2 separate regions of the Homo sapiens genome follow, and region 2 is linked to region 1. The links come from fine-mapping of genetic effects on gene expression. A gene starts in region 1. The other region holds a variant in brackets. All regions are shown on one strand. Distances are from middle to middle. Region 1 holds the start of SCLY (selenocysteine lyase). Region 2 overlaps SCLY (selenocysteine lyase).

Region 1 (2,908 bases):
AGTTTTTAAATAAACAGTGCTTACACCAATCCACATGAAAACCCAGATACAATGACTAACTGTGGCTGTTAAGCCACTGAGTGTGGACAGAATGTGCATTAGTTGAAATGAAGCATCTTTTCTGTTCAAAATCACTCAACAGGCTGTGCCCTGTGGCTCACGCCTGTAATCCCGGCACTTTGGGAGGCCAAGGCGGGCAGATCACCTGAGGTCAGGAGTTCAAGGTCAGCCTGGCCAACACGGCGAAACCCCATCTCTACTAAAAATACAATAAAATTAGCTGGACGTGGTGGCACGTGCCTGTAATCCCAGCTACTTGGGAGGCTGAGACAGGAGAATCGTTTGAACCCGGGCAGTGGATGTTGCAGTGAGCCAAGACTGCACCACTGCACTCCAGCCTGGGTGACAGAGTGAGACTCCATCTCAATTAAAAAAAAAAAAAAAAATCACTCAATAGGTACAAGGCTTTGACAAGTTTGACTCGCCATCCTTTACCACTCTGGTACTAGTATTAATAGTCCTAGGAATCCCCCAGCCCGGCTTGACTTTGCATGTGCCCTTATATCTGTTTTTCTTTCCTATAAATAAGCATCCAAAGTACCTTAGGCTAGCTAGTGTTTGTTGAGCGACTGTAGCTCTTCAATCTGCTGCTGGGCTGAACAAATCTATTTTGTTCAGATTAATACTTTACACATTCCTTTGCTTCATTATTTGCTGCTTCCTTAAAATGCTATCAGTATTGGATGAGCAGGCTCAACTTTGTTAGCTTCATAACCAAAAAATAAAAAATCTTGGGAATCTCGCTCCACTGATTCCCTAGGGGATATTTTCCCAGATCCCTTCACTTTGTTCCAACCAAGGTAGAATGCCAAATGTGTGTGCTTTAGGCCTGGACCCCCTCATATTCTAAGCATGGGTAGCGAATGAGCTCACAAAAAGGAAAAAGAGGGGTCTGGAAAGAAGACACACAAACCAGAAAATGCATACCCCTGCCTCCTGCTCTTCTCGGACTTAACTAGTATGGATACCACGTGCTTCGGGTCTCCGCGCTTCTCAGCGGTGGCCATCCCGTTTCCTGCAGCTGGGCCAGCAGTCTGGGAGAACCCTTGATTCCCTTTCACCTGCCCCAGTGCACCAGCTTCCTACCAACGCATCCGTTTCTGGGCGCACACCACATCTCTCTCCTAGGTTGTTACAAGATCCCCAACTGGCTTCCCGGCTTCCTCTCGTCCCATGCCTACCCGCGCCCCTACTTTCTAGGAAGCAGCCAGAAGGACTCCTTCAAAACACTTAAATTGCATCGCCCCGTGATCAACTTCCGAGGCCCCATAAGGCTCCGAATGAACCCCAAAGTTCTTCCCGGGCTCAGGGGCTCTGCCGGTTCACCTCCGGCAAGTCCCCTGCCCTTCGCATCTGCTGTGCCCTCTTCCTGGCAGGCTCTGCTTCCCCAGAACCTGCAAACCTCACCCCTGGAAGTCACTCGGGTTTCGGCCCCAAAGTCACCTCTCCGTGGGCCCTTGCGGGGCCACAGCTCGCACCCGCTCCTCCTTGAAGCTCGCATCCCTGACTTAGGCCGACCTCGCGGACATCCCCGCGCGGGACGCCCCACGCGAGAGCGGCCACAGGCCGGGAGCCCCCTTCGTCCTCCCGCGCGGGACAATCGGCGACAGGCGCCGGCCGCTCCCCAGCCCTGCCCTAAAGGCGCGCACCTCTCCGGCGAGTTGTGTTTCCCGCAGCCGCTGGGCTGACTCGCCGCGGGTGCCGGCGCATCCCTCCCCGGCGCCACGGCCGCCTCCATCCCCGCCCCACTGCTGCCGGGCATCCAGCCTCCTTCCCGCGGAGCGCTACGGGCCCAGAGCGCCGGGGAGGAGGCGGGGCCGCGACGCCCGGGCGCGTCCGGATTGGCTGAGCGAAGCACCCCAGCCAATCCACCCGCTTCAGAGGGCCGCCGAGCCCCCAGCGGGGAGGCGAGGCTGCGCTGGGTCAGGTGACGGGTGGGGGCGGGGCTTAGCGCGTCACAGAGCTTCCCGGGAACCGGGCGCTAGAAGCCGCGTCTCCTGGGCCGGCGGATCCCCGCACTTTCACTTCCGGGGGAGCCCCGTGACCTTTGCTGTCTGCGGCAGGGCCGCCATCGGGCCGCGGCCGGTTAGTCGGCGTAAGAGCAGGCGGGGCCCGAGCTGGACCTGAGGAGCAGAGGCGGCTGGGCAGTCCTGCGGGTGCCTCCCTCTAGCCGCATGAGCGCGGGACCGTGCACTCCGGGAGAGCCGGGGCCGCGCGGCCTTGTTCCCCGCGAACCCTCGAGGGGAAGTGCCGGGGCCGCGGCAGCAGGGCCAGGGCCCCGGGGGTCTCCCGCAGGCCACCCTGGACAGTGATGAGCAGGTCCGCTGGACCTGCGCGTCCGTTAGTCGGAGCGGCTCCATAGGGGACCTGGATGGCGTGAAGTTAAGAGTCACGCATCGAGGATGGACTTGAGGGGATCTGGAGTAGAGGATGGGAGGGCATTGAGAAAATAGGGCCAGAGATGAGGGACTCTAAGTGGGCGTGGAAACGCAGGAAAGATTAATTCAAGATCTGTTTAGGCCGTTAAATAGGAATTGGGGCATGAGGGACAGGAAGGAAGCAAGGATTAGACAAGTGACTGGGAAGATGTTAGTGCCTTTATCTGGGTAAGAGGGAAGACGGGAGGGGGAAAGATGATGGGTTTAGCTTTGGACATGTTGAGTTGTCTGTGAGACAGTCACAAGTGTAAACATCCACCAATGGTTGGTGTCCCGCCAACCATTAAGAAAAGTCAGTTGAGAAAGTGGTAGAAATGAGCAAAAATCCTCACGAAGCCATCCTACCGTCACTTTTTTTGTTGTTTTTTGTTTTTTTGGCATAATAGTGTCTACCTTTAATTGAGCCTTGA
Region 2 (2,908 bases), 24 kb before region 1:
GGGCTCAAGCAATCCTACCATCTATCTCAGCCTCCCACATAGCTGAGACTACAGGCCCGTGCCACCACATCCAGCCATTTTTTTTTTTTTTTGTAGAAACAGGATTTCACCATGTTGCTCAGGCTGGTCTTGAACTCCTGGCCTCAAGCAATCTACCTGCCTTGACCTCCCACAGTGCTAGGATTAGAAATGTGAGCCACCACGCCCAGCTAATGTTGTCTTTTTTTTTTTTTTCAGACGGAGTTTTGCTCTTGTTGCCCAGGCTGGCGTGCAGTGGTGCGATCTCGGGTCACCACAACCTCTGCCTCCCGGGTTCAAGCGATTCTCCTGCCTCAGCCTCCCAAGTAGCTGGGATTATAGGCATGCGCCACCACACCCGGCTCATTTTATATTTTTAGTAGAGATGGGGTTTCTCAATGTTGGTCAGGCTGGTCTCAAACTCCTGACCTCAGGTGATCCACCGGCCTTGGCCTCCCAAAGTGCTGGGATAACAGGCGTGAGCCACCGTGCCTGGCCAATATTGTCTTTTTTTTTTTTTTTTTTTTAAAGAGACAGGGTCTTGCTCTGTTGCCCAGGCTGGAGTGCAATGGTGTGATCATAGCTCACTGCAGCCTCGAACTTCTGGGCTCGAGTGATCCTTCCCCCTCAGCCTCCTGAGTAGCTGGGACTACAGGCACGCACTGCCATGTCGGCTAATTAAAAAAAATTTTTTAGAGATGAGATCTTGCTATGTTGCCCAGGCTGGGAACTCCTGTCCTCAAGCAATCCTCCTGCCTTGGCCTCCCAAAGCAGGGGGATTATAGGTGTGAGCCATCGTGTCAGCCTGTGTTGTTGTCACTTTGCCAGTTCCAGTGAAGCACAGACCTCATCTCCTATTATGTTCCTTTACCTTTGCCTTTCTATAATTATCTTAAATATGTCCTTTATGTACATTTTGAACCACATCAGATATTGCTAAGATTTTTGCTTCTGCTATCAAACGTAATTCAGAAAACTCTAAAGAAGAAGGAAAGCCTATTGTATTTGGTGATAAATTCTTAGTTTTTCTTCATCTGAGAATGTTTTGATTACTTCTTCATTCCTGAAAGATATATTCACTGGGTACAGGATTCTAGCTTGACGGTTTTCTCTGAGCACTTGAAGAAAAATAATTGTGTCCCTTTCTTCTGGTCTTTCTGGTTTCTGATGAGAAATTCAGTCATCCAAATTCTTTTTCCC[A/G]TACTGGTGAAGTGTCATCTTTCTCTGACTGCTTTAGAGAATTCTGTCTTTCATTTTTAGAAGTCTAATCATATGTCTCTGGCATAGATTTCTTTGCGTTTATGCTATTTGGGGTTTACTCAGTTTCTTGATTCTGTATGTTTATGTCTCTTGCCAAATTCAGGAAATTTTTTAGCCATTATTTCTTCAAGCACTTTTTCAGGCTGTCATCTTTCTCTGTTTCAGGGATTTCAATGAAACGAATGTTATATCATTTGTTATCGTCTCATAGGTCCCTGAAGCTCTATTTTAAACCCCATTCTTTTTATTTTTTTGAGACAGAGTCCCGCTCTGTTGCCCAGGCTGGAGTGGCACGATCTCGGCTCACTGCAACCTCTGCCTCCTAGGTTCAAGGGATTCTCCTGCCTCAGCCTCCCGGGTAGCTGGGACTATAGGCGTGTGCCACCAAGCCCGGCTAATTTTTTGTGTATTTTTTTTTTTCAGTAGAGATGGGGTTTCACCGTGTTAGCCAGGATGGTCTCGATCTCCTGACCTTGTGATCCGCTCACCTCGGCCTCCCAAAGTGCTGGGATTACAGGTGTGAGCCACAGCACCCAGCCGAAGACCCACTCTATTTCTTCTCTGTGGTCTGGATTTCTATTGTTCTGTCTTTCAGCTCATAGATTTCTTTCTCTGTCCTCTTATTTTTCTATTAAGCCCATCCACTGAGCTTTATATTTTGGCTGCTGCTGTTCTTAGTTCTACAATTTCCAATTTCCATTTGGTTCTTCTTTTATGTTGTCCTTCTCTTTGCTGACACTTTGTTTCACTTGTTTCAAGGGTGTTCACAATTTCTCATTGAAGCATTTTTACTGTGTCTGCTGTAAAATATTTGTTAGATAATTTTAACATCATCATCTTAGTGCAGGCGTATATTGATTATTATTGTTCATTCAATTTGAAATCTTTCTAGTTCTTGGTATGATGAATGATTTTCACTTGAAACCTGGACATTTTTGCCTTACTTTATGAGAACCTGGATCTTATTCAATCTTTCTGTTTGGGCTGCCATTTTCTGACGTTGTGCTGGCAGGAGAAGGGGTATGCCACCATCACTGCCAAGTGGAAGTAGAAGTCTAGGTTTCTTTTTTTTTTTTTTTTTTGAGATGGAGTCTCTCTCTGTCACCCAGGCTGGAATGCAGTGGTGCGATCTCGACTCAGTGCAACCTCCGCCTCCCGGGTTCAAATGATTCTCCTGCCTTAGCCTCCCGAGTAGCTGGGATTACAGGAACACACCACCACGCCTGGCTAATTTTTCGTACTTTTAGTAGAGATGGGGTTTCACCATATTAGCCAGGATGGTCTCGATCTCCTGACCTTGTGATCCACCCGCCTCGGCCTCCCAAAGTGCTGGGATTACAGGAGTGAGCCACCGTGCTGGGCTTTTTTTTTTTTTTTTTTTTTTTGAGACAGAGTCTTGTTCTGTCACCCAGACTGAAGTGCAGTGGTGCCATCTCGGATCACTGCAACCTCAGCCTCCCGGGTTCAAGCAATTCTCCTGCCTCAGCTTCCCAAGTAGCTGGGATTACAGGCATGCGCCACCACACCTGGCTAATTTTTATATTTTTAGTAGAGATAAGGTTTTACCATCTCGGCCAGGCTGCTCTCAAACTCCTGACCCCAAGTGATCTGCCCACTTCAGCCTCCCAAA

Evidence for each region. PIP is the estimated chance that this variant, and not a neighbour inherited with it, causes the effect.
Region 2: its variant is the best candidate, but not a certain one, in a credible set for the expression of SCLY in nasal epithelium (TOPMed, PIP 0.56).

The regions. Positions count from the first base shown.
Region 1 is chr2:238,059,945-238,062,852 of GRCh38, reverse strand. SCLY (selenocysteine lyase) reads right to left here and starts at 1,852. Exons shown (of 12, transcript NM_016510.7): 1 at 1,710-1,852. The coding sequence starts at 1,798. All of the region lies in intron 8 of UBE2F-SCLY (UBE2F-SCLY readthrough (NMD candidate)), which reads right to left. RefSeq lists silencers at 1,643-2,092, 2,233-2,442.
Region 2 is chr2:238,084,346-238,087,253 of GRCh38, reverse strand. The region is part of intron 7 of SCLY (selenocysteine lyase); the gene reads right to left. The region is part of intron 14 of UBE2F-SCLY (UBE2F-SCLY readthrough (NMD candidate)); the gene reads right to left. Among named protein-coding and RNA genes, the nearest start is that of ESPNL, 15 kb to the left of the region's middle. The variant A/G (reference allele first, on the strand shown) is at 1,219.